4 linked regions of the Homo sapiens genome follow. The protein of the gene in region 4 interacts with the protein of the main gene of each other region in a pairwise test. Each region holds a gene or a part of one and is shown on either strand. Other genes may lie near its edges.

Evidence for each region.
Region 1: the proteins of LMTK2 (region 4) and MTMR6 interact in a two-hybrid assay, tested with the Homo sapiens proteins (one study listed by BioGRID and IntAct).
Region 2: the proteins of LMTK2 (region 4) and PTPDC1 interact in a two-hybrid assay, tested with the Homo sapiens proteins (one study listed by BioGRID and IntAct).
Region 3: the proteins of LMTK2 (region 4) and DUSP19 interact in a two-hybrid assay, tested with the Homo sapiens proteins (one study listed by BioGRID and IntAct).

The regions. Positions count from the first base shown.
Region 1 is NC_000013.11:25,249,467-25,256,491, forward strand, and holds part of MTMR6 (phosphatidylinositol-3,5-bisphosphate 3-phosphatase MTMR6), read right to left. Parts: intron 5,607-7,025; coding exon of another isoform or gene 5,556-5,606; exon of another isoform or gene 4,983-5,555; intron 4,969-4,982; coding exon 4,919-4,968; intron 4,499-4,918; coding exon 4,298-4,498; intron 2,519-4,297; coding exon 2,387-2,518; intron 2,310-2,386; coding exon 2,183-2,309; intron 27-2,182; coding exon 1-26. UniProt on the Homo sapiens protein: Lipid phosphatase that specifically dephosphorylates the D-3 position of phosphatidylinositol 3-phosphate and phosphatidylinositol 3,5-bisphosphate, generating phosphatidylinositol and phosphatidylinositol 5-phosphate.
Region 2 is NC_000009.12:94,079,723-94,087,484, reverse strand, and holds the start of PTPDC1 (protein tyrosine phosphatase domain-containing protein 1), read right to left. Parts: upstream 3,022-7,762; 5' UTR 2,955-3,021; coding exon 2,711-2,954; intron 2,235-2,710; coding exon 2,063-2,234; intron 1-2,062. UniProt on the Homo sapiens protein: May play roles in cilia formation and/or maintenance.
Region 3 is NC_000002.12:183,081,743-183,088,767, forward strand, and holds part of DUSP19 (dual specificity protein phosphatase 19), read left to right. Parts: intron 1-1,765; coding exon 1,766-1,812; intron 1,813-5,297; coding exon 5,298-5,450; intron 5,451-7,025.
Region 4 is NC_000007.14:98,193,848-98,200,872, forward strand, and holds part of LMTK2 (serine/threonine-protein kinase LMTK2 precursor), read left to right. Parts: coding exon 1-725; intron 726-7,025. UniProt on the Homo sapiens protein: Phosphorylates PPP1C, phosphorylase b and CFTR.

The sequences.
Region 1 (7,025 bases), on a different chromosome or scaffold from region 4:
TGCTTATTTTTGCGTTGTTTAATTTTCTAGAACAAACACAAATTTGAAAAAATTACTAATTGCATAAGCCACAATATGTTACATGAAAAAAGAAAACATGCTTTTGCAAAATATGTTCTCTGTATGTATAATGCAAAACTAAATCTCAAAAAAGTAGAAACATTTAATGCATATGACATGGTTGAAAATCCTAATTGTGTACAATTTTTTGCTGTGGAAAATTGTTAGTTTTTATATTTATTAAACAAACAATCCAGCAAGACTTGACTGCAGGCGATCACTAGGCTTCCACACTTAAAATGGACATATATTACCTAGAAAGCATAACAGGTAAACATTTATAATAAAAGAAATGTGTATGAAACATTCACCCTGAAAACACAACAAACAAACTTGTGTAGCTAAAGGGCTCACTGACTATATAGAGTTTTTCTTACATGGTTTTCCTACAGTGGTTTGTTAGGTAAAAATAACAGACTTTAAACACAACAGAACTTTACTTTTTTAACAGAAGATTTTTAAAGTGTCCTGTGGCAGAGTATCATGCTCTCCAAATTCTTGGACTGTCCCGATAATCTTGTATTACCTATTATCCTGGACTTGCCTCTCTTGACCATATCCTTCTACAATTTACTCAAGCAGTCATTACCTCTTTATCTAAAAGATGACTAAGGGAGACTCCTGCCTGAGAGGTAGATGAGACAGTCTTACTGTTATAACTGTCTAGGATTTAAAAAATATATATATACTTACTGATCCTTTTTGCTTATATAGGATGGCAGAAAAAAGATTATAGGAAAGTCTTAGGGTAGAGAGGGATTTGTTAAACAAGACACACACAGAAAGCATAAAACATTGAGCAATTTGACATGAAAATTCAAAACATCTATATATAGCATACCATAAATAAAGTGGAAAAGACAATAGGCTGGACAAAACCATTTGTAATATATATAACTAACAAAGAATTAGTGCCTGGCATATAAACAACTCTTACAAATCACTAAGAAAAAGGCAAATATGCCAACAGAAAAATGAGCAAAGGTTTGAACAGTCCATTCACAGAAAAGGAAAACCAAATGGCCAACAAATATGGAAAGTCATTTAACTTCATTTGTAATCATGGAAATCCAAAACTGAAAACAATTTAAATATTCATCCATAGCTGAATGGATAGACTGTGATATATTCATATAATATAAAGTTATATAGTAGTTACTAATAAAAAGATGAATAAAAGCTACATGTATCAACATGGATAAATGTCAAAACACTGTTGAGCAAAATGAAGCACATAAACAGTATGGTAACTTTTATATAGTTTTAAAACATCAGTTTCTTAAGCAGAGTGAAGGGTATATTGGCCTATACATTGTCTGTTTCCCTTTACAACTCATACAAACATTATAGATAGTCTTTGGTATTTTTTCAATACACAGTAAAAATATTTTAAGTCAAGAAAAACAGTATTATAAATTGTGATACATGGGTGAAGACTGGGTAAGAGTATAGAGGGTCTTCAAATAGATCTATGTTTTATTTCTTTTTTTTTTGTTTGTTTTTGTTTTGAGATGGAGTCTTGCTCTGTCACCCAGGCTGGAGTGCAGAGGCATGATCTTGGCTCACTGCAACCTCCGCCTCCCAGGTTCAAGCAATTCTCCTGCTTCAGCCTCCCAAGTAGCTGGGATTACAGGCATGCGCCACCATGCCCGGCTACTTTTTTGTTATTTTTTTAGTAGAGATGGGGTTTCACTGTGCTGACCAGGCTGGTCTCAAACTCTCCTGACCTGGTGATCCACCCGCCTCGGCCTCCCAAAGTGCTGGGATTACAGGCGTGAGCCACTGCGCCCGGCCTATGTTTTATTTCTTAAAACAAGAACAAGAAAGATCTGAGGCATATATAGTAAATGTTAAAATCCCACAAAAGCTAGCTGGTGGGTACACAGATAGTTATTATGTTTATCTATACGTTATGCTATATACTTCCGGTATTTTAATGTATTTTAAAATACAAAGAAAGTGATTCGAACTAACGTATTCAATCAAAGTAGGGATGACCTGATTTTGAAGAAACTGCTTACTTCAGAAGTTTATGTGCTGATTTACACCAACAATACAAATATTAGTCTAATCGTAAACTAATTTCACATTCCAAATATATTAGATACTTCAGAATACTTACAGATTCTAGGTCTTTAATATCTTTCTCTAATTGTTTATTTTGCTCATTCATATTCATAATTATATTAAATACAGACTGCCTAGGATGCAGTGTTCGATCAAATTGATGGTACATGTTCCTCCAAAACCTTTATGACAAAAAAAAGTTTCAATAAATTGTGTTTGAGAAAATTCAAGTATAAATACTCCAATGATGTCAACTTACTTAAAATTGAAAGATACTGTATTTGGCTCCAAAACTGTAAATCTGTGAGATTCGGAACTGTAGAGAGGATTTAAGTACTTCTTTTGGTCTTCCAAAAGAAATGGCCACAGGGAATAAGTCTTCTCCTTCAACCTTAATATAATGAGAAAAACACAGAGATCTTTCCTATAGATGCAAAGTAGTAATGGTAATATTCATTTTTATAAATCAGGCGATGGCTTCCGAAGCAGATTTAAATTTTAGTTTTTTCTTGTATTCACAGTCTAACCTTGTCTCAGAATTCTGTATTATCTCTATTCTCCTTTTTCATTCATAATTAGGTAATAAAGTCATGTTTCTTGAACACAACACAGGTATAACATTTTCTCTCACAACCATATATTTTAAGGGATTCCTCTCAACTCACACAATTTCAAAAACTTGGTCTCTGTTCCACCTACTTCAAATCACCACAAACATACACATAGAACAAGACACTAATGCATCTTTCTGTCTGGCCTTCTCTTAACCCCACGTCTGGGCCGTAGTGGCGAGTATCATAGGGCAGGAGCACACGTAAGTGTGAGTGGGTACAAAAAGGGAACAGGCAAAATCAGGATGTTATGCAAGAATTTTAAAAGCCAATTATTTTGCAAATCTAAGAGTAGCTGGGCAAAGGTAAGAATGGTTTTAGACTGGACATTTACCAAGTAAACATAATGTAGGTATCCAGGGGGAAAGTGGAAAATCTCCTGATTTTTCCATAACTCCTAAGATGACCCATAGGTGTGTCTTGGAGAAAAACTACTAGGAAATATCTACTTTTACTTCCATCTTTCCATTTTTGAGAATGTTTGGCACTAATTAAGAATAGTTTTTCCTAAAATAGCTCTGTACTCCAGGAAAAGAGTTACCTCTGTGCTCCAAATTATAATAAACTATTTTGAATCACTGTAACATAGAGCTAAAGCCTCAATGTTCTTTGATTGTTCATCTCCACCATTCTCTATTCACTTTTTATTCCCTTTACGCATTTTTAGAATTTTCCACATGCTCTCAGTTCTGCTGTTTACTCTGTTGGGAGTGTGAGCATGTGGCTATCTTCAAATACTACCAGATTTAGCTTCCTTAATATGTCCCTTGGATGTTCAAAAGTCTGTTAAGTGCTCTTTATTGCCTACTGTAAGAGGCAATAAAGAAATCCAAACTCAGAAGCCCAACCTAAAACAATATACATAGGACCTCTAAGACCTACTCCAGAGATCTTCCTTACAGCAAAATTTAGGCAAAAACCCCTATCCCCGAAGACTGGTCAGGAAATAACATGAACTAGGGTCAAGTAGTGTCTCAGGGCTTTTCTGAGACCCTACTCAAGGACGGACACGCTGCAGCCAACATAGCTAGATTTATTTTCCCCAAAGAACTGTCTGTTTAGAAATGTGGGGAGAGCTATAAGGCTCCATCCTATCTTAAAACAAACCAACAGTTTAAAATATTTTACACTTTAAAACTAGCGACTGATACATTCTGGGAAATTAAACAGCATAAGGATTTCTCTGTTCTAAAATATATAAATGCAGACCGAAAAGAAGCATGAGGAGACTTTCCAGGGTGTTGACAACATTTCATATTCTGGGTGCTGGTTACATAGGTGTGTGAGTTTGGTAAGATTTACTGAGCTTCACACTTAACGCTCTATGTACTTTTCTGTATGTATGCTACACTTCAAAACACATTTTATAATGTGCTTTTACTATTAGCTGAAAGGTGGGGGAATATTAGAAGGGTACTCAGCTTTAGAAATACAAAAAATAAAATCTTTACAATAAACTTTCAAATTGTCAAGATATTTTATTAAGTTTCAAACATGATTTTTGTTAGACCTCGGCTAAGTAGGGGGAAAAGGAGACTCTTTTAATTGAATCATCTTACTTGAGCTCTTCTCTTTCCTTCTGACAATTTCCAAGGAAGTTTCCAAACTGGCATGAATGAATATGCTCATGGATCTGAAGAAGAAATGCTTCACTGAATTCAAAGGCTTGTGGAAACTGTTCGGTCAAATGCCACACACATTCCAAGAACTGAGTAAACACTGGTGAGACTTCCTTTGGGTCACCATCCAACTGGCCACACCTAACCCCACAGAAAGTATAAGCTTTTAAAAACACCTCTGAAAGGTCCATTGTTCAGGTATTGTTAATCTTAAACATACAAAAATATTCCTAAAGCACTGTTACATTAGCATGCAAAACTAGAATTTTTATTGAAACCATTTATGAGTTTTTAAACCACAGCTTTAAAGGATCTGTTACCATCTCTAAATAAAATGCAGCCCAAAAGGAAGGTAATAAATAGTCATGAAAATTAACAAGCGTACTAGAATTGAAAGAAATTACAGAAAAAAATTAAATGTCTTTACGTAAAATACAGTAAAAACCATGACACTCTTACCTCCCATCACGCATGTGAGTTCATAAGGAACAGAAACATTTTGGCATTCTAAACTTGGTTTACTAATTTTATAAAATATATGACTGTGTAACTGTGACTCACCTCTCTGAAAATTTATGTCCAAAAGAGATCCAATCCTTTTCTATTAAAACCTTAATGAGAAAAAGTAAAATTCACTTTCTGACTACTTTCAATTATTTTGTTTAGGCTGGATTAAATCTTATTAGTTTAAAAACAGTATTTACTGTACACTTTTAACTTATAAACAAAACAGCACAAAAAACCACAGGCAAAAGAATGCCAAAACCTTGATTCGAGGTGGGGTTAAAGAAGAATAAAAATGCATAAAAAGAAATAGAGTAGTTTCGTGACTTAAATTATTTCCGTTGAATTTATTACATTTTAAGTGAAAAGTACATGTTATAAAGCAGTATTACATTTAAGTTTTTGTATGTATGAAGATGATATATCATAGGAAAAAGGCTAGAAAAATGTAAACCAAAACTGCTAACAAAGGATAACTCTAGGTGGTAGACTGAGGTGGATATTTTAAAACTTTTGGCTTACTTGTACATTTTTTATATTATTTATATACTACTTTTTTTAAGAAAAAAAAACTAATGATAAAAAGACCAATTATTTTAATCAAATCATCTTACTTGAGTTCATGTTCAGATCCAAGTGTTAACATCTATCCTCTTGAATGGACTGACTTTATGTTTTCCTTGCCACAGCTTCTCTACTTACCCACTCCACTGTAAAAACAGATTTCTAACTTTTTCAGTCTAATCTAAACACATATTTGTAGTATTTAGTACACTTTATCACTTAACTATACAGTCACCAAGCACATTATTTTCATAGTGTCAAAACTGCTGGTTTTAGCTTCTCTGATTTTGTCTCAAGCCTCTGCTTTCCGCAGAAGGCTATACACTGATGTGGCTGAGGATGTAGTCGCTGGAGCTCAGGCACAGGCTCCAATCCCAGCTTCACCACTTTGTGTGACCTTGTGGCTGGAGCCACAGATTTTATTCTGGTCTCTCTGCCATTCTTCTACAAAACCATGTTTAAAGCATAACTCAATATCTTTCTCACTAAATGTATTCTTTGGCTTATCTCAGTGAAGAGCCAGAGAGCAGCACCATCCATCCTGGCACCTAATTCAGAAACTTGGAAATCATCCCAGAGGAAGACTCCTCTCTTCTATCCCACATCCAATCCATGATCAATTCTTCCTGACTCTACTTTCTTTTTTTTTTGAGACAGGGTCTCACTCTGTTGCCCAGGCTGGAGTGCAGTGGCGCAATCTTGGCTCACTGCAACCTCCGCCTCCTGGGTTCAAGTAATTCTTCTGCCTCAGCCTCCTGAGTAGCTGGGATTATAGGTACACATCACCATGCCCGGCTAATTTTTGTATTTTTAGCAGAGACAGGGTTTCACCATATTGGCCAGGCTGGTCTCGAATTCCTGACCTCATGATCCACCCGCCTTGGCCTCCCAAAGTGCTGGGATTACAGGCGTGAGCCACTGCGCCCAGCCACTGACTCTACTCTCTAAACATCCCTGGAACCCATCACCTCCCCCTTCACTTGTGTGTTACTATTTTAGTTTGGTAAAATTAAAAACTTTTGTCTCATAAGTTATCATAATAGTGTCTACACTCGCCTCCTAGCCTCCATTCCCACTCCCTTTGGCCTTCAAGATACCAAGCCACCTTTTTAAAAAGCACATCTAATCAAGTTACTGTTTGCTTGTTTAAAACTCTTTAATAGCTCCCATTATCCAAAGAGGGGAAAGCCCCATTCCAGCCTTCTCTTTCTCAGGCCCTGACCCCACTCTATTCCTCTGCCTCCAAGCCCCCTATTCTAATACTCACTCTGAACTCCATCCATCACACATTACCTGCAGTCACCCAAAGAGGTTATGCTTTGATTTACACTGTTCCTATTGCCTGGGAAGCTCTCACATCATCCCCATTTATTACATGATTTCATTTGGATGTCTAACAAATAATTAAAGCCAAACATGGCAAAGAAAATATTCCTTATCGTACACTCTCAAGGTAAGCTGAGCATTATTTTCTTATTAGCAGCACTCCCGCTTGGCCTGTCCCAGAGTCGGTATGTTAGCAGCAAAAAATAGCGGTGCTGAAAAGGGACTGGTGATTTTAAATCTTCCTTTGCTTTAAGATGGCACTGTATTTAATAAT
Region 2 (7,762 bases), on a different chromosome or scaffold from region 4:
GCTTTTTCTTGTACAAAAGGTAGTCTAGTAAAGGCACTGTTAGATACTTTGCTTTTTTTCTCTTTAGGTTAATTTTTAAAATTTCAATAGTTTTTGGGGTACAGATTATTTCAGGTTACATAGATGAGTTATTTAGTGGTGAATTTTGAGATTTTGGTGCACCCGTGTAAGAATATTCTTATACAAATCTGGCTTCAATTTTGGATGATTAGAGCTCTAAGAAACTCTAGCTTCTTAAATCCCTGGAAAAAATTCCAAGACATAAATTATTTGTGGATTCCAGCAAAGTATTTTCAAGAACTCTCAAGAGATTTTAGTGGACATGATGGAGAAAACTCAGCTGGTGGTGAAGGTAACAGTCTGGATTGTTACTCAATGGGTAGTGACTTACATGAGGAGGGCCAACTGGGAGATATTTTGTTATTCAACTATCTGAATCTTAGTTACAAGGTGTTAAATGGGGATAATAATGCCTGTCTCACAGGGTTGGTGTGAGAATTCAATATGATGTGGATGTAAAGTCTTTGGCACAAATCCTGACATGCAGTTATGAATAAATACTGAGTTACTGTAATTTGGTGACAAATATGGGCTCCAGAGTCAGTTGGGCTTGGTTTCAAATGCTGGCTCTTCTACTTTCTAGCTTGGTAGCAAATTACTTGGTCTCTCTGGAACTCAATTCTTTCATTGATAAAATGGCATTAACAGCTCACAAGAGTTTTATGAAGATAAAAGATAATAGTATGAAAGCATCTAGCACACTGACTGGCCTACAGCCAAATGGATATTTACTGAATGAATGAGTGGGCAGACGCCCAATAAATGACTATTACTCTTGTCAGGCCTCTGGGCTCTGGCTTCACTCTGTTCTGTTCAAATTTCTCATCAGTGGCCTGATGAGATATATAAGGTAAGTCTGTTGGAAGTCGTGGGTCACATGAATCTCAGGGGAATAACAGAGACTGTCAGGGCAGGATCCAAAATGACACCTTTCCCTCTGAAAGAAGGCATATGGTTTAACATGGGACCCAAAAGTTTGGACCCCCAGTGATAATTAGTGTAAGATGAAGGGGGATGTAACGTGAAAGCAGCAGAGGTGAAAAAGACTCACATGATTTAGTCAGCAATAAAGCAAAAATATGCAAATGACCTAAGCTACATTATTAGAAATTTTCTTGTCTGACTATGAATGTTTCCTTCTTCATACTATTAGTATGATAGTGATGGACCAGAATATGACCTGTGGTGAACAATAATGACAGTGGACCCCAGACTATATCACTACAGATGTACTGAGCAAATCCAATATGAAAAAGTACAGGTTGTAAGCTGGATAAGCCAGTTGACAAATATCTAATTGAAAAATGGGTTCTTGATGTATAAAATAATTCACTACTAGAATTAAACAGTGAATTCCTCTAAGTATGCTTCAAATGTGATTTATCAGAATTTTTCAGATGTTACTACATCAAAAAGGTGTATTTGACTAGTTTACTGTTTAATAAAAAGCAGTATGATTAAAGAACAATATTAATTTCACTTATACACCATAAAAAAAGCAAATATCTTATGTTTTCTACTGAGCTGACAACTTGTACCACTTTTATTAGGGTAGACTGAAGGGTATTTGTATGAAAATGTGACCTTTCATATAGAATATAGGAATAACATAAAAGCTAAAGCTTACCTACATGAAACTGAAAAATTACACATGTACATCATAATTTTCTCAAATTTATAGCTGAAGTTTTATTATTTCTAAACATTTCTGAAATTTAAGAGCTATCTAATTATCCATTTCTTCAATACACTTTATATATATCATTTCACTTAATTAAAAAACCCTATGGTTTTGGTTTTATTATTTCCACCTTACAGATAAAGAAACTGAGGGTCAATAGGCCAAGATCACACAGCTAAGGCAAAGCCAGAACTGACTGGCAAAGTGAGGTCCTGACTTCAAAGTCCCACACTGCTCCTCCCACACTTCAGGGCTCCTGGCTCACACAGAGTGTCCTTCCTGTATCCAACAGAGCTATGAAAGACCAACAGGATCACTCACCAGGATGAGTAAACCCCCTTAATGGCTTGCTCCTGCTCACTCCAGCGGGCTGGGTTCTCATACTTGCAAGCTCTACCGCCACACGCCATGGAACATGCCATGTGTCCAGGAATGACATGCCGTAAACGCTCCCCTACTTTTGTGTACTTTGGTGTTGGACGTTCTAAATTTCCTAGAACATATAAGGAAAGGAAAATTCAAAATTCCACTCTCCAAATGAAATTGTAACATGGGAAATAGCTTCCATTTTATCTCAGGATGGTAGATGACAAGCCAGTGCAAAATCACCTTCATCTTGTCAAGAAAACAAAACTGTTTCCCTGTCAAAGTGACATATATCTCTTAATGTAAAAAAGCTTTCACATATAATAATCTCCACACATACTGGCAATTAGGAGGAAGAAACTGTAGAAGCAGATGTTTTACAAGAGAATGAGTTTTGTTCAAACCTATATTTTTAATAAAAAAACACAAAACATTTGATCATTTTATATCCTCTTATATATTCACTAAAATAGCATAACAGACAGCAAAAAGTATAATATAGAATAAACTGCCAATATTTAAAAAGGTATAAACACAACACAGCTGATTCCCATTCCTCAAACTTATATACATAGGTATGGCAATCTATAAGAAGAAAGAGACCTTTACTTTTTCTTTCGGGGAAAGTTGGGTTTCCCTCTGCATGGCTGACTGAGGAAACAGCCACCATCACCTGGAGAGAGGACGAGGACAGCAGCTTCGTGGCAGAGCCGGAGCCCAAGCCAGAGCCCCGCCGGGCCTGCTGCAGCCGCAGTACTGGGTCTGAGGTGGAGTGCCGGCGGCCCTGGAGAAAGGAGCTGAGGAAGCGCACGGCTGAGGGCCGCCTGGTTGCATCCTGCACCTGCATGGCACTGGGAGGCAAGAGCCGGAGGCAGGAAGAGTCAGCCCCACTCACTCAGTGAGGAACTTTCACTGAGAGCAGGGAGCATTGCATCGTTCTGTATGATCTAAGAGCCATTCAGATTGGCTGACTGGTTTCCATGGCGACAAACAAAGAAACTACTGATTCCCACTTAGATCTGAACAGGCAAAATCCAATATGAACAGATTGCATTTTGGACAAATTGTTCAAATATAGGGAAGAATAATATAAATTTTAAATATATTGATTACTAAATTTTGTTTCTCAAATGCACTTAAAATATCTAACCAAAGAATTACTCCCCAAAATACTGTAGTGAATTTAGAAAACTGTCTTCCTGATGCAAAAACTGCCTTTTACATACATGTTAAAAGGCTTAAATTCTGTTATTCTGTTCACAACCTGTCTCTGGATATTTTGAAAAAAATTACCTTTCTACTCCTCGTTTGAATAGTGCAGAAAAAAGTTAATTGTAATAAAGTGGGATATGCTGGACACCTTACAAGATTATTAAAATATCATCCAATTTTTCATAACCAAAACCACTTCTATTTTTTCTTGGTAAAACTATTAAAGAAATACTTGGATAGAACAAATAAAGACATTTTTAGAGGTGATATATTATCAGAAGACATTTAACTTCATGTGTTCATTTTCAGAATATAAAAACCCAATTCTTAGTTATGCCTCTGTTGGACAGTTATAGTAGCCATGCCTCTCAAAAACTCAAAACACCATTCTCTGCCTTTTGTTGCAGTGAGGGAAAAAAGAAGCTTCAATAATGTCTTGGCAGAGGCATACAAAGAAAGATCACTAAATATCACATTTTTAAAGGAACTAGATGAGGGGGAGGTTGCAACTTGAAGATAAAGGATATAAAGAAAACAGAAAGTGCAACAACCACTAATGTACTCATTGTCCGCCTCCTCCCTTGTTAATGTCAGGCTGCGCCCTCGCTTGCTCGCTAGCTCTCTGCACAAGTGGTATTTCAGATGTGTGTGCACAGAAACAAACTACTGTACTGCTACAGATAAGGCTATTTTCTATTTTTTTTTTTTTAACGATTACTAATGCTATACCAAGCTCCTTTTAAAATGCCGCCCCCATCTCCCCAGTAATGTGCACTTTTGTCGAATAAGACAGGGACACAGAATCCCGATTTGGTGTCCAAATTCCTACTCTATGTATAGTATCATGCCTTTGTTATTTAGAATGCAGCCATGGAAGAAAGCACAGCTTTCCTGTCGGAGGAATTATATGAGGATTATTCTAGGCAAGGCCCTCAGGACCCTAAGGGCAACACAGAAACAGCAGTTGCACAGAGGTCTGCATGACAAGAACATGAACTTACTGGCAGGAGGCCCTAAATGCTCAAACTAAGGAGCTGTGTATTTGCTATCTGTGTAAGAGGGAGTCTAAGAAGATTTCTGGGCAAGTCTGTGCTTCTGAGTATGTGGCACTCCAGAATGTTAACTTAGCTCTTGAGAAACAAGAGTGGTGAGCTCTGCAGAAACAAGTCCATGGCCTGGAGAACCAGCATCTGAGGACATCTACAGAGAAAAGTCAAAAGTAACTGCTTTCAACTACACTAAAAATGACAACTAATTTCATTAGATAAGGGGTAGGGGTAGGACTTATTTGGACCAAGCTAAGGAAGGGATGGTTTATAGATCACCTCAAGAATAATCTCTGTGGTGAAATCTTGAGCCCTGGGTTGACCTCAAATAAACACAAAATGACTGAGCTTACCCCAGTTACCGTACAGTCAGTGACCCTGTGTCAATGTCTAAGGAAGTCAAGCCTAACGCAAACAGGATTCTGCAAGGTGAAAGCAGCCCTTTCTGCATGCTTGCTCAGTGTTCCCAACAATGAGGTGCTGTGAATATACCTTGCATTGATGAGGCAGATGAAAAGAAATGTACCCACCTCTGGACACGAGAACCAAATTTAGAATAATATTTAAGGAACAAAATGAGATACTGATCATGACAAATATGAAATCAGTTACAATAAACACAACAAAGAAACCCACTAAAATGTACCAGTGAGTACTGAGTCTTTTCTTCCTTAATTTCTATAAGTGGGCAGGTAAAACACTGAAAAGTGAGATCTAGAACACCAAGAACTAGTAATTTCCTTCTATACTCAAGATTTCAGAAAGGGATCATTGCTTCCTAAAGTCATAGAACAATAGGCTGAGAATGCAGTGGGTGCCTGGTGGGCGTGGGAGGCCCACCTATCCGCATTCTTAAGTCCACGGAGGAGTTACTTCCAGGAATTTGCTGTACAGCTGAATTTCCAGCCTCGTGTTCTCTACTTTTTGTGACAAGAGGCTCACTTTTCACAAGGGAACTGACTATTCCACTGTTAGACAGCTCAAATGTTTTCTTTCCTTCCTTCTTTAGAGATGGGAATCTCACTTTGTTGCTTAGGCTGCACTCAAATTTTTGGGCTCGAGGGCTCCTCCTGCCTCAGCCTCTTGAGTAGCTGGGACTACAGATGCCTGCCAACACGCTGGGCTTCAAATGTTCTCTAGTGTTGAGTTAAAATCCATTCTATAAACATCGGTTCTGGTTCTTCCCACTGAAAATAAAGAATAAAGCTTCTCTTTGTCTTGAAAGATTTTCAAATATCCGAAGACAGAACTTTTCCAAGACTTTCCCTATTTCTGTTTTTCAAACATTCCTAGGTATATGTAATTGTTTCCAGATCTTTCACTATAATTTCCCTTCTTCTGAGGGCCCTTCTTCTCTCCCCTTCATAGCTAAACCTCCAAACCAAGGTGACTACACCTGCCATCTCCACGTGTCACAGGTCTCATCCTTAGCCTACTCAGCTCTGGCCTCTGCCTCCACTCTCAAATCAAACCACTCTTGCTAAGGCCTCCGATGATCTGTTTTGAGGTGGACTTTTTAGAGTTTCTATTTGACTGTGCAGCAGCATGCAACACAATCGAACACTTTAGTTTTAATTTTTAATTTTTTTTTAAAGACAGCACCTTGCTCTGTCACACAGGCTAGAGAGCAGTGACGTGATCATAGCTCACTGCAGCCTTGAATTCCTAGGCTCAAACAATCTTCCTGCCTCAGCCTCTCTGGTAGCCAATATGACAGGTGCCTGCCACCATGCCTGGCCCATATATTTTTGAGAATATTTTATATTTTTACTTTGAATCAATGTCAAACTTACAGAAAAGTTACAAAAGTTACAAATAATATTTTTCCTTGGCTGGGCATGGTGGCTCATGCCTGTAATCCCAGCACTTTGGGAGGCTGAGGAGGGCAGATCACCTGAGGTCAGTAGTTAGAAACCCACCTGGCCAACATGGTGAAACCCAGTCTCTACTAAAAATACAAAAATGGGCTGGGTGTAGTGGCGCATGCCTGTAGTACCAGCTACTTGGAAGGCTGAGGCAGGAGAATTGCTTGCACCTGGAAGGCAGAGGTTGCAGTGAGCTGAGATTGCACCACTGCACTCTAGTCTGGGTGACAGAGCGGGACTGTCTCAAAAAAAAAAAAAAAGAAAAAGAAAAAGAAAAAAAGAATATTTTCCCTTGAATTTTTTAGAGTAACTTGCAGAAATGCTGCCCCATTACGCCAAATAATTTAGTGTATATTTCCCACAAAGATATTCTTGAAAATTACCCCAAATCAGGAAATTATGGTTGAGATATTACTACTTGCCCTCTATTCCTCAGACCTCATTCAAGCTTCACTGATTACTCCAAAAATGTTCCTTACAGTAAAACGACATGTTGTATTTAGTTGTCCTGTTTCTTTCACCTATTTCACACTTGAACAAGTTCCTCAGTCTTTCCTTGACTTTGATGACCTTGACACTTTTGAAGAGTATAGGCCAGTTATTTTGTAGCAATCTCTCTCAATTTGGGCATGCAGTTTCCTCATGATTAGACTCGGAAGCCCTTGCATTTATTAGTAAAGAACGGTATCTAGAAACCAATGTCTGTGTGTTAGGTATGCTCATTGCCATTAGAGTGTTACTGCTGCCAGGCCCTCTCAGTGGACAGTGCTAAAGAATATGGATATTATGCACAGGCACATACATTATCACACTTTACATCTATATTTATTCCCATATGTAGGCATATATACATATGGAAAACCAAGAGTTTACCCTGATGCTACCAATTCCAAGCCAACACCACAGAGTTCCTCTAATTTCCACCCTTTCCACAACTGTACCTATAATTATAACTCTGTGAGAAGCCTGGGCACAGTAATCTTTAATATATTTACCTAATTGACCAAGCCCCCTACATGTAACCAGTCTCCCATCACTACCTCTGCTCCCTCCTCCATGTGGATGCCTCTCTCATCCCATCTGGGCTTTAACACCTATGCCAAGCTGCTGCTGCCACCCACCTGGGTAGATGCTCTCCTCATCCTGCCTATGTTCCAATATTCCATGTAGGGTCACCCTGCCACATGGAGCCCTCCCAACCTGACCCAAGCTCTGATGCCTGGGAATGTTCTAATAACCTGGGCCAGGTCACTCTCCCACACAGGTGTTATCTGGCTCAGGCTTCGCCACTGCTGGGCTGCTCTCCCATATGGATTTCCTCCTCACCCTGGCTGGCTTCTCCCAAGTGCCCCTGCTCCACCTCATCTGTAGGTCAAAGATTCCACACTTAGGCAAGCCAAGAAGACCAGAAGCTATCATTCCTGCTCACCTTGCAAAGTAGGGGGATCACTCAGAGAAGTGGGCTGTTGTCCCCGCCTCAAGCTCCAGAGACATGGCTAGTAGACTTCAGCCAGAAGGAGAAGCAGGCCTTA
Region 3 (7,025 bases), on a different chromosome or scaffold from region 4:
TATAATAAAGCTGAATGTGAGCTCAGTAGCGAACCTGTAAGCTTGGTATTATCAAGAGGATATTGGCCAAACAGCATACTTGCTGGCCTTTCAGCCACCTAAAATCACATAATAAAAGTTGGCTGAATTCCCAGATGGGTAACTTAAAAAAAAAAAAAGTTTATGAAATAGAACCTAATTCAGGAAAGTAAAATACTTGAAATCTTTAAACTGTGAAACTCACTTTATTTTGACTAGTTATTCTCCATATGAACTTGCTTATTAACTAGAGCCAGTTTCCAAGTGTGGGAGATCTGGGAAGCCGGCTGTGACAGAAAGAGATTGTAGAAGGGCACAGCCCTAGTGATACATGGAGTGTGGGTGGGATCCTGCAGACCAACAGCATTTGCTCTAAGCTACTGGGTGTTCCCAAACCAGCTGGCACAAAGTCATCTTGTGGGTGTGTGGTTTTTGTAATATCCTTTTTTAAGTTACAAAATAAAGAGATGTTTATTGTAAAAAGTCAGAATGAGCATAAAGAAGAAAAAAAAATCACCTGCAACCCCATTGTTAACATTTTGTTCTATGTATACCTCCTTTCCATTTTTTAAGCATATACATATTTTTTGTTGTTATAAAAATGGATGATGGTATTTTGTAACCTGCTTTTATAACCAGATACATTGAGAACATTTTTCTTTTTTTTTTTTTTTTTTTTTTGAGACGGAGTCTCACTCTGTCACCTAGGCTGGAGTGCAGTGGCACGATCTTGGCTCACTGCAACCTCTGCCTCCCAGGTTTAAGCAAGTCTCGTGCCTCAGCCTCCTGAGTAGCTGGGATTACAGGCATGCACCACCATGCCCAGCTAATTTTTGTATTTTTAGTAGAGATGGGGTTGTGCCATGTTGGCCAGGCTTGTCTCAAACTCCTGACCTCAAGTGATCCACCCACCTCAGCCTCCCAAAGTGCTGGGATTACAGACAGGAGCCACCACTCCTGGCCAAGAACATGTTTCCATGCTATACATATTTTACCACATTTCTTCTTTCTCTCTTTCTCTCTCTCTCCCTCTCTTTCCCTTCCCTTTTGTTCGTTCGTTCGTTCGTTCCTTCCTTCCTCCCTCCCTCCCTCCCTCCCTCCCTCTCTCTTCTCTTGTCTTGTCTTGTCTTTTCTTTTCTTATCTTTTCTTTTCTTTTGTTTTCTTTCTTCTGGCTGTGTCACCGAGGCTGGAGTGCAGTGGCATAACCATAGCTTACTGTAACCCCGAATTCCTAGGTTCAAGGGATCCTCCTGCCTTAGCCTTCTGAATACCTGGGAATACAAGCATGCACTACCATGCCTGGCTAATTAAAAAAAATTTTTTTTCTATAGACAGGGTCTCACAATGTTGTTCAGGCTTACATTTCTTATTTCTAATGGTGGTAATGGCTGTATGTATTTCACTACACAATTATACCATTTTTTATTTAATGCAACAGCTATTATTGGGCTTTTAGTGTTCTTTTGTTTTTGTTTTGTTTATATTACAAACAATACTATGGTGAACATCCTTACAGCTAATCTTTGCAACATCTATAACTTTTAGGACAAATTTTTAGAAGTAGGATTTCAGAGTCCAGGAGTTTATGTAGGATGACTGTTATCAAATTGCCCTTCAGAAAGTTGGACTAAGGTCCTTCCAAGTTGTTGGTCTTTTTTTTTTAATAACAGAATTGCTGTAGAAATTTATATAAAAGTTCAAGATGATTATATTTGTGTTCAAGGTGGTATCATTTATTTCTTCTAGGGTCACAAGATGCTGCTCATGATTTGGATACACTGAAAAAGAATAAGGTAAAAAAATGCTTTAAGTCTGGCACCATATACACAGAATATTTTAATTGTTTTATTTAGGAAAAACTGTATTGGTCCATCTTTGGTATATTATGGAGTTTATTTGGTAACATTTTGGCTATCATTTCAATAGAGTTGAAAAATAATTGGCACATAATTCAAATATGTGGATCTGTAATCTGTCTTTCCAGTTTTACATTCTTCTTGATCTCCTTCATGTACCCTCATGAACCTGACCTTGGAGGCATGTCTTTCTTGCCTGTGTTTATGTAGTTCCTCTGTGTGGGATAGACTTTCCCTCATCTCTGCTTGTCCAAGACCTGTCCATACCTTAAGTCCCAACTCACATACCACGTCTTCTGTAATGCCATTTCCAGCCACTCTACTCCATACAACTGATGTGATTTATTACATATTTACTCAAAAGGATTTTTAGCCCTCTACCATTTTTTTGAGTACTGTTTCAGGTCATGGAATTGCTGTAGGTGAAGGAGTGCAAGAGATTCTTGTTCACTTGAAGCGTATGACCTAAGGGGCAGACAGAGAAGAGAGACAAGCAGCTACCGAACAGCGTTTGTGTGCTTTGATGGGGAAGTGCAGGGTGCTGTAGAAGTGCATAGGAGATGATGCTCTTAACCCATGTTTGGTTTGGTTTGTTTTTGGGGGGATAAGTGAGTCAGGGGAGACTTCCTGGAGGAAGTGATATTGAAGTATTTCTCTGAAGAGGCTAGGAAAGGAGTAGACAGCCTGTAATCCCAAGGCTTTGGGAGGCCAAGGCAGGAGGATTGGTTGACCCCAGGAGTTCGAGGTTACAGTGTGCTATGATTTTGCTACTGTACTCCAGACTGGGCGACAAAGCAAGACTCTATCTCAAAAAAAAAAAAGAAAGTAAAGTGTTCATACAGAATAAATGATATGTGTGAAGGCCCAGAAGCAAGAGAAAGGTGGATGCTTTCAGGGACAGAAAAGTTCAGTGACCCTGGAATAGAGAGTGTGAGAAAGAAGGGCACCAAGAGACAAGGCCAGAGAGAGAGGTAAGCATGAGCCAGATCACAAAAGGCCATGTAAGCCAAAGTTAGTTGTGTGGACTTGATCCAAAAGACTATGGAAAGCCACTGAGAAGTTACCCAGAGATGTAACAAGGTCAAATTTGCAGTTCAGAAAGATTTCTCATTAGAAGCAGTGTGGAAAATCGATTGGAGGGTTGCTCAAGTTAGAGATGGGGGAAACTGGTTATAAAGCTATTGCAGTAATCTAAGGAAAAGATGATAATGGCTGAGATTAAGATTTAGTGGAGATAGAATTAGATAGATGTGAGGGGTTTTTTAGAGGGTAGAATTCTTAAAATTTGATTACTTATGAGGCAGGATAGGGAGTGGGGCTAAGGGAGAAGGAGGAGTCAAGGCTGATGTCTAGCTTTCTTTGGTAACTAAGTAAAGTTATCGTTCCATGAGATTGAAAGCAACGTAGAAGGAACAGGCTTTGAAGGAGAAACAGTGTGCTCAGTTCTGAACATGTTAGGTTTTGGGTGATGTGGATCATCTAGGTGGGTGGATATGTAGGGTCTGAAGTTCAGAATAGAGGTGAATATATAGATTTAGGAATCTTCAGCTTTTAAGTAGTTACTGAAACCATTAGAATAGATGAAGCTGCCTGGGGAAAAGTGTAAAGTAAGAGAGAAGAGGGCCTATGACAGAATCTTATCACAGAACTGATAAATTGAGGAATATCACCCTATATGGAATGATCAAACAAAGAAGAGTCCGCAGTGGGAAAGGAGGATCTAAAAGAGGCCCAAAGAAGGTAAAACAAAAAGATGGTGTCATGGAAACTAAAGAGAATAGTGTTTTAAGGAGGAGAGAGTCAGCAATGTCAGATGCTGTAAAAGTTTAAGTACGATTAGGACTAAATTATATCCATGGGACTTGGTGACAGAGAGGTTGTTAGTGCGTTTGGTGGAAACAGTTTCATTTGAATTGGAGGCCAAAGCCATATTGCAAAAGATTGAGAAGTGAGGAAGTGATGGCAAAGGGAAAAAAAAAAAGAGAGAGAGGAGCCATAGGTGAGGAGGGGGAGGGGAGAGCTTTGAGCATGTTTTAAGGCTGATGGTAGAAGAAGGAATTGAAGATACAGAAAAGCAAGAATTATGACTATAGGGAGATGCCAAGAAAGTAGGAAGCACTGTGACTCCAAGCACAGGTTCTGGAATGAGCCTTATCGAAGATGCACGAGCACATCCTTCATTGTAATCAGAAGGCAGAGGGGAAGTACAGATGTGGACAAGGTTGTTAGGTTTTTTTTTTTTTTTTTTTTTTTTTTTTTTTTTTTTGAGGCAGAGTCTCGCTCATTTGCTCAGGCTGGAGTGCAGTGGCATGATCGTGGCTCACTGCAACCTTTACCTCCTGGGTTCAAGTGATTCTCAGCCTTTGGATTATCTTAATGGACTGTCTGCCTGGCTTTCTTCCACATGGTTGGTGGACTCTAGGAAAAGGGGCTCAAATACATAGATGCAAGAGGAGGAGGTTGCTCAAGTGTACCATCTGAAAGAAAATATTTTACAACCACACCTCCCCTTACTTTTCAGCCAGATTGGTTCATCAGAATCTCTGGGTATGAGACCCTGTGTTATTGATAGTTTTTAAGAGTTCATCAGGTGACTCTAATGTGCAGTCATCCTGGAGAACCATTTTATAAAGTAAAGAATATGAAGGAAAATAGGGAAATAATTCTTGAAAGGGAAGTTGTATACCACTGATACACTTCTCCTATTTAAGTTTTTATATGGATATTCACAGATTAATTCAACAAAGATTTTAAGCATTTTCTGCTAAACTCACTGCTCATTCGCTTATAACACTAAGTTAAACATGGTCCCTACCCTCATGGAGTTTCTAGTGCAGTGAAAGAGAAAAACAATCTCTAAATGGCATGAGCTATAATAGGGCAAGTCCAGGGCTATGAAAATATATAGGCCAGGTGTGGTGGCTTATACCTGTAATGCCAGCACTGTGGGAGGCGGAAGTGGGAGCATCACTTGAGGCCAGGAGTTCGAGACCAGCCTGGGCAAAAAAAGTGAGACCCGCCCCCCTCTTCTCTGAAAAAAAAAAAAAAAAAAAAAATTAGCTGGGTGTGGTGGTACACGCCTGTAGTCCCAGCTACTTGGGAGGCTGAGGCAGGAGGATCACCTGAGCCTAGGAGTTCAAGATTGCAGTGGCCTATGATTGCATCATTGCACTCCAGCCTGGGTGACAGAAAGAGACCCTGTCTCTGCATGATGATAATAATAAGTTAAAAGAGAGAGAGAGAGAGAGAAAACATATAGTAGAAGGAGCACTTCTGGTGTGGGATTGAAGCAGTATTATCATTCAAGTGAGTCGCATTTAAATTTTTTACCTTTCTTGTTATAGATATCAACACCCCAGTCTCTTTTTAGGTAACCTAATTCATGGGATTTAAAACAATCATCTTTTTTCTTTCTCTTTAAGGTGACTCATATTCTTAATGTTGCATATGGAGTTGAAAATGCTTTCCTCAGTGACTTTACATATAAGAGCATTTCTATATTGGATCTGCCTGAAACCAACATCCTGTCTTATTTTCCAGAATGTTTTGAATTTATTGAAGAAGCAAAAAGAAAAGTGAGTTTTGTTTTGATCCATAGTTCTGCAGAAGCAGAAATTTGAAAGTGTGGATCCATTACCCAATCTTTATTATTTTTATAATGAATCTCTAAAAAACAATTATGAAATTTCCCTTCTAACAATATTTCATTATTTCCTACAATTATTTGGTTAATTGCTCTTTTTTCAATGAGATGTTTAGTTTCAACATTAATTCAGACTATAAAACAGAGACTGCTCTAGACTTGTTAGTGTATTTATGATGATTAATATGCATTTGATTTTAATGAATGAGATAGTTATTGTGAAACTATGCATTTTTAGCAGTAAAATTTTAAGGCACTCTAAGGACTAAATGTGTATTGCTTTACTTAGATTGTATGAAAATGCTGATCAGAAACTGTCTGTTGGTTTTCTGAAGTTAGAAGACCAATAGCCAATGTCATATAGTACTTCAGGCTTGTTATTGAAGTCAACATTCTGACAGGCAAAGTTTCTAGGTTGGCTGTTATCAACAATTATTCCTTGAAATGTCATCATTTTTAGTCAGCAAATAATTCTTACAGACTTTATGTAAGATACGTAGATGGGAAAGTAGAAGCATTTACAGAGAGAAATAACTCTTCTGGAACACCTAACAATGACAGGATTACAATCAGGTTTAATTGAACTCTGGCCTACCTTCTCTCCCTTTATCTTTTCTCCTTCCCATTTTCTCTTCCTCTCTCCCTTCTTTCCTTTCATTTAGTAATATTTATTGAATGCCTTAGGTGCCCAGCACTGTTCTACGTGCCTTCCTACTAGACTACCCAGAAAATATAAAACTATTCAATTCTACTGTTCATCAACTTTACTTAATAGCAGATACAGTCATGCACTGCATAATGATGTTTGGACTGCATATATGATGGTGGTTCCATAAGATTATAATAATGTATTTTTACCATACCTTTTCTATGTTTATGTATGTTTAGATACACAAATACATACCATTGTGTTACTGTTGCCTACAAGTCAGTACAGTAACATCTGAACAGGTTTGTAGTCTTGGAGCAATAGGCCATACCATTCTAGGTTTGTGTGAGTGCACTCTGTGATGTTTACACCACGAAGAAACTGCCTAACAACACATTTCTCAGAATGCATCACCATTGTTAAATGATGCACGACTGTATTTGGATGGAAGCAAAGGAAGAGGTTTTTTTTGTTTTTTGTTTTTTGTGTTTTTTTTTTTTGTTTTTTTTTTTTTTGAGATGCAGTCTCACTCTGTCGCCAGGCTGGAGTGCAGTAGTGTGATCTCGGTGCACTGTAACCTCCGGCTCACTGCAACCTCCGCCTCTCGGGTTCAAGTGATTCTCCTGCCTCAGCCTCCCAGGTAGTTGGGACTATAGGAGCACACTGCCACACCCGGGTAATTTTTTGTATTTTAGTAGAGACAGGGTTTCACCGTGTTGCCCAGGCTGGTCTTGAACTCCTGAGCTCAGGCAGACCACCTGCCTCAGCCTCCCAAAGTGCTAGGATTACAGGCATGAGCCACTGCACCTGGCCAAGGGAGAGGTTTTTTAATTCAAAGCCTAATATTGGCCATTCTGT
Region 4 (7,025 bases):
TGGTGTTGGTACAGGAGCAGCCCCTACCCGAGCCAGTCCTCCCCGAGCAAAGTCCTGCTGCCCAGGATAGCTGCCTGGAAGCCAGAAAGAGCCAGCCAGATGAAAGTTGTCTGTCTGCTTTGCACAACTCCAGTGACCTGGAATTAAGAGCCACGCCGGAGCCAGCACAGACTGGTGTTCCCCAGCAGGTGCATCCCACGGAAGACGAGGCCAGCAGTCCCTGGAGTGTGCTGAATGCAGAACTTAGCAGCGGCGATGACTTCGAGACACAGGACGATCGCCCCTGCACCCTCGCTTCCACGGGGACCAACACGAACGAACTCCTTGCCTACACCAATTCTGCGCTGGACAAGTCCCTGTCCAGCCACTCCGAGGGCCCGAAGTTGAAGGAGCCGGACATCGAAGGGAAGTACCTGGGGAAACTCGGGGTGTCAGGGATGCTCGACCTCTCAGAGGACGGGATGGATGCAGACGAGGAGGACGAAAACAGCGACGACTCGGACGAGGACCTGCGGGCCTTCAACCTGCATAGCCTCAGCTCCGAGTCGGAGGACGAGACCGAGCACCCCGTGCCCATCATCCTCAGCAACGAGGACGGAAGGCACCTGCGGAGTCTGTTGAAGCCCACAGCGGCCAATGCCCCCGACCCACTGCCCGAGGACTGGAAGAAGGAAAAGAAGGCAGTCACGTTTTTCGATGATGTCACAGTCTACCTGTTTGACCAGGTATCTGTTCCCTCTAAATCATTTTCTATACACATCCATATAAGGATTCCAAAATGTGCTAGGAAATTGAGTGTGGTCTGTTTTCTAGTTGCCATTTTGAGGCAGCAGATTGTGATTACTCACAAAAAGTAATTTGGGGTTGGTTAGAGTTCTAAGAATATGCAGAAATGTCATTTGCTCAGGGAGTTCGTATTAAATTAAGAGAAAGAGACCCGAATGCTCTTCCTGGGTCTTCTAATGGAGTCTTCCTGAATTAGTCACCCTTTACACACCAAATTTTTACTGTTTTACTTTTTTATTTTTCTTTTGAGACAGCCTTGCTCTGTGGCCCAGGCTGGAATGCAGTGGTACAGTTGCAGCTCACTGCAGCCTTGAACTCCTGGGCTCAAGTGATCCTCCCACCTTCCATAATAGCTGGGCCCACAGGTTCATGCCACCATGGCTGGCTAAGGTTTTGGTGTTTTTTTTGTTTTGTTTTGTTTTTAATTTTTGTAGACACACGGTCTTGCTATGTTGCCTAGGCTGCTCTCAAACTCCTGGGCTCAAGCCATCCTCCCACCTCAGCCTCTCAAAGTTTTGGGATTACAGGCATGAGCCACTGCGCTTGGCCTCCAATTTTTAGAGCCTGACAATTGGCAGTAGGACCCACCACTTGGGTACAAGCCTGGAACCATGGCTGGCGTGCAGCCCTGGAGACAGCTCAGGAGAGGGGCCAACCAGAAGCCCTGCGGTGGGTGTCTGGAGGGTGTGACACACAGCAGGAGCGTCTGTGGTCCTTCTGCTCTGTCCCCTGACCTGTCCTCTTTCCCTGCTTTGGAGCAGGCAGCTTAGTGTGCACTGCTGAGTGGGCATGGATTTAGGCTCCTTTAAAAATGTAACAGCGGATAATTCAAGCATGCTTTAAAAAAAAAAAAAAAGTTCTTTTCATACTAGTCTTTGTAGCCCTTGAATTTGCTGCTTGCATCAGCTGGATTGTTGGGAGAGCTCAGTGGTGGGACATGAAAATGGGGTCCCCTCACCTTCTAGAAGGCGCAGGAGTCCTCGCCGTCTCCTTCACATTGCTTGCCCTCCCTTTTGCTCCATTCTGGGAACCCAGACCTTGGTCTCAGCCCCTGCGTGGCACCATCCCTCATGGGTCCGTGGCTATGGCGGGTCCAAGCACTGTTCCACCTCCTCCCCCAGGAGCTGCGTCTGTTGAACGTCACTTTATGCCTTGTTCCTCTGTGTTCTGTTCACTTTGGTTTTTATGATGTTTCTTTAAAAATCGTTAAATCACCCGCATTTGAGCTATAGCATATATGGCGGGGAAGTGGATGTTTAAAAAATGAAAAGTAAGGCCAGGCGCGGTGGCTTATGCCTGTAATCCCAGCACTTTGGGAGGCCAAGGTGGGCGGATCACCTGACGTCGGGAATTCAAGACCAGCCTGGGCAACATGGCGAAACCCCATCTCTACTAAAAATATAAAAATTAGCCAGTCACGGTAGGCAAGACTGCAGGCCCAGCTACTTGGGAGGCTGAGGCATGAGAATTGCTTGAACCTGGGAGGCAGAGGTTGCAGTGAGCCAAGATTGCACCACTGCACTCCAGCCTGGGTGACAGAGTGAGACCTGTCTCAGAAAAAAAAAAAAAAAAGCAGCCTCCTGAGCTCAGCCTGACCTCTTGAACCTGATTCTGCGAGGGGCCAGGAGGCCGTCTTTCTCTTTTCATTCCCCAGGTGGTTCCTAGGCAGATCTCGAACTCAGGAGCCTCTGAGCTCAGGGAGCCTGAGAAAACACGCTGCCGTTTTCTAGTAAGAGTGGAAGGGAGAAGGGATCACCTGGCCCCTCGGGTTTGTGTTTTGTTTTCAATGCATCCACATAGCCCTTTCTCCACCGTCTCTGTGAACTTGGATTATCGCTGCATTTCTCCATGGATGGGGTAATGTATAGGTGGGACGGAACTGTCAACTGTGCTCGGTGAGCAGTGCGGTTAGGAGCTAGGGAGCACGCTGTCCCCACTTCCTGAAAGCCTGGGGGTAGCTGGAGTAGTGAGAGGGACGCAGTCCCAGTGGAAGCAGCCTGTGGAGAAAACTCCCTGGGGCCGCAGAGTATGGGCCCCTTGCACAAGTCTTTGTGGAGGATGTTATGTTTTTCTGACTTTAGAAGACAGAATTGCAAAAGATGAAGATCTGTGACAAGGGCACTCTAGTTATGGGATGGAAGGTACAGAGATCAAATACCAGACATGCTTAATGGACGCGAGGCTTTGACAAGGAAGTTAGTGTCAAGGAGAAAGTCGGAAGGTGGGTCAGGGCCAGAAGAAAATGAGGAAGATCTTTCTGATGATCTGAAATTCGTTTGCTTATGCGTCTCATGCAGCATGCCTTGAAGCGACAGCCACCAAGCGTTCAGGCCGAGGACTGAGGGTTTCCTCCCACTCCTGCTTTCTTTTTTAATGAGCTGGTTTTGAAGTTGTGTAGTTTTTAAGCAGTTGAAGTATCTTGGCTCCAAACTTTTAACTGAGTGTTCATGGGATTGGGCAGCAATTGTTTCTTGGTTATATTACTATTTGTCAGTTCAGCAAATACTTAACCAGCACTTACCGTGTAAAGTAGTAAAGGCTGGTGAACAGTCTGTGGGTGCCAGCACCTTTATTATACATTGAGTCTTGTTTTGCTTCCCCATGTGGGGGTGGTTGTCACCATCTTCATGGAGAGGACCCTGAGGCTCAGAGTAGGTAAACTTTGCACAGGGTCTGGCCCCAGTGAGTAGCAGTGCTAGGGCTTGACCCAAGTCTCCTGGACCGAGCACAGAACTTTTCACCACTGAGCCCTGCCACCTCTTGCATGCACCTTTACAATCTGCAGCCTGGCATCGCATTCGACTTTTAGCACTTGCGATGTCCTTCCTCAGTGCACAGTGTTCTTGAGACAAAAGTAGCGGGTAATGATGCTTACTTGCAATTAGTGCGACAGGGTTCCCTCCAGCCTGATCCGTCATACTGTAAACAAGCACTGAAGGCTGGGCACAGTAGCTCATTCCCATAATCCTAACATTTTGGAAAGCTGAGGCAGGAGGATCGCTTAAGGCCAGGAGGTGAGACTGGTCTAGGCAGCATAATAAGAACCGATTTTTAAAAAATTGGCCAGTTGTGGTGGCCCGCACCTATAGTCTCACCTGCTCAGGAGGCTGAGGCAGGAGGATCGCTTAAACCCAGGAGTTTGAGAGTGCAGTGAGCTATGATTGTGTCACTGCACTGCAGCCGGGATGGCAGAGTGAGACCCTGTCTGAGAGGCTCCTGCTCTCCAGCTTTGAGGAATAAACATTCAGGGCTCCACCTAGGTTTTTTTGGTTGGTTTGGGTTTTGTTTGTTTGCTGGCACTGTCTTTGGTTTTGTTATCAGAGTAATTAATGCTGGTCTCATAAAATGAGTTGGGAAGTATTTCCTTCTCTGATAGTGTTTGGAAGAGATTATGTAGATTTGTTGATCTTTCCAAAAAATTGCTTTTGTTTTCATGGATTTTTTTTTCTTTTCTCTTTCGTTGATTTCTGCTTTGTCTTTATTATTTCCTTCCTTCTCCTTGCTTTGAATTTATTTTGCTTTTTCTAGAAAAGCTTAGAATTCGAGACCTTACTTCTTTTCTCCTTTTTTTTTTTTTTTGAGACGTCTCACTCTGTCGCCAGGTTGGAGGGCAGTGGCGTGATATCGGCTCACTGCAACCTCCGCCTCCCGCGTTCAAGCAATTCTCCTGCCTCCACCTCCTCAATAGCTGGGATTACAGGCGTGTGCCACCGCGCTTGGCTAATTTTTGTATTTTTAGTAGAGACGAGGTTTCACCATGTTGGCCAGGATGGTCTCAATCTCTTGACCTCATGATCTGCCCACCTCGGCCTCCCAGAGTGCTGGGATTACAGGCCTGAGCTACCGCGCCTGGCCTCTTTTCTCTTTTTTTGAGACTGGGTCTCGCTCTGTCGCCCAGGCTGTAGTAGTGCAGTAGTGCGATCTCTGCTCACTGCAGCCTCCACCTCCCAGGCTCAAGGGATTCTCCTGCCTCAGCCTCCTGAAGTAGCTGGGACCACAGGCGCCCACCACCGTGCCTGGCTAATTTTTGTATTTTTTGTTTCGTCATGTTGCCCAGGCTGGTCTCGAATTCCTGAGCTCAGGTGAATCTGCCTGCCTTGGCTTCCCGAAGTGCTGGGATTATAGACGTGAGCCACTGCACCTGGCCTCTTCTTTTCTAATAATTTAATGCTATAAATTTCCCTTTATGTACTACTTTAGCTGCACCCAGCAAATTTTAATGTGTGAGTTTTCGTTTTCATTCAGATCAAAAAGTTTTTTGTAAGACTTCCTCTTGGGAGCATAGATTAACAAGTATAGTTTAATATATTAGTTATAATTAATAATTACTAATAATTGGTTAATATAGTTTAATAAGTATATTGTTTAATTTCCAAGAGTTGGAGATTTTATTGTATCTTTTTGTTATTAAATTTTAGTCTAATTCCATTATGGGCAGAGAACATATTTAATATGGTTTCAATGCTTTTAAATTTGTTAAGGTTTATCTTAGAGCCAGGATATGGTCTTTCTTGGTGAATTATTCCATGTATACCTGAAAGAGTGTGTATTTTGGTTTTGGTGGGTGGATCGTTCTATAAATGTCAGATTTAATTTGTTGATGGTATTAGTTCTTCTCTGTCATTGCCGATTTTTCTGCATACTTGTTCTATTACTCAGAGAGAGGTTGTTGAAGTCTCCAGCTGTGATTTTTAGATTTGTCTATTTCTCTTTTCATTTCTGTTTATTTTCGCTTCCTGTATTTTGCAGCTCTGTTGATGCATATACATTGAGGATGATGATGTCTTCTTGCTGAATTGACCTTTTTATCCTTTCGTAATGTCCTTCTGTATTCCTTTGCCTTATATTCATAGAGCTGCTCCAGCTTTCTTTCTTTTTTCGGAGACAGTCTCACTTTGTCACCCAGGCTGGAGTGCAGTGGTATGATTTTGGCTCACTGCAGCCTTGAGCTCCTGGGCTCAAGCAGTCCTCCTGCCTCAGCCCCACAAGTAACTGGGACTACGGGTGCACACCACCACACACAGCTAATTTTTGTATTTTTTGTAGAGATGGGGTTTCACCATGTTGGCCAGGCTGGTCTCGAACTCCTGAGCTCAAGCAATCCGCCCGCCTCGGTCTTCGAAAGTGTTGGGATTACAGGCGTGAGCCACCGCTCCTGGCCACGTTGTTTTGGTTAATGTTTGCGTGGTGTATCTTTTGCATCCTTTTACTTTTAATCTACCTGTATCATTATATTTGACATGAGTTTCTTGCAGATCTTATAGTTAGATGGGGTTTTTAAAACTCTGTTCTGAAAAATCTGCCTTTTAATGGTATGTTTAGATCATTTACCTTTAATAAAATTATTGATATTTTGGATTTACGTATACCATTTTATTTGTTCTATTTTTATTTCTATTCTTCCTCTTTTTAATAAATTGAACATTTTTAGTATTACATTTTTCTTTTTCTTTTTTTTTACACTGTTCTCTTTGCGTAGTTTTTGTAGTGGTTGTTCTGGGGGTTACAATGTATGTATTAAACTTCTCACAATCTACTTAGAATCTGTATTTGCATATTTCAGATGGAATGTGGAAACCCTACTGTCACTTAGGCCTTTTGCCCTCCGTCCCCTTCTTGACATGCTCTTCTATGTTGCATACATGTACACTGATAACTCCTCAGACAGTGCAACACATTTGACTTTCTGTCATCAAACACATTCTAAGAAACTCAAGAGGAAATGAATAGTATTATACAGTTGGCCCTGGAGCAACATGGGTTTGAACTGTGTGAGTGTACTTATAACATGGCTTCTTTTCAACCCAAAACAGATCGAAAGCACAGTATTCTCGGGATGTAGAACCTGTGTATAGATACGGAGGGCTGACTTTTTGTATATGTGGGTTCCGCAAGGCTAACCACAGGACTTAGTATGCACAGGTGTGGTTATGCACGGGTGGTCTTGTCACTGATCTCTGTTCAGATCGTTTCTGGAGTTGTCCCTTGGTTTCCAAGAAGTGGTGGTTCCATAATTTGGATACCATAATTAGAGGCTGCCCAAGTGCTTTATATGAAATGGCATCATATTTGCATATAACCTACACACATCCTCCTGCAGACTTTCAGTCATCTCTAGATTACTTATAATGCCTCATACACTGTAAATGCTATGAAAATAGTTGTTATACTGTATTATTTATTTTGTTGTTGTTGTTGTTGTTGTTATACTGTTATTTCTTATTTGTGGTTGTTTCTGA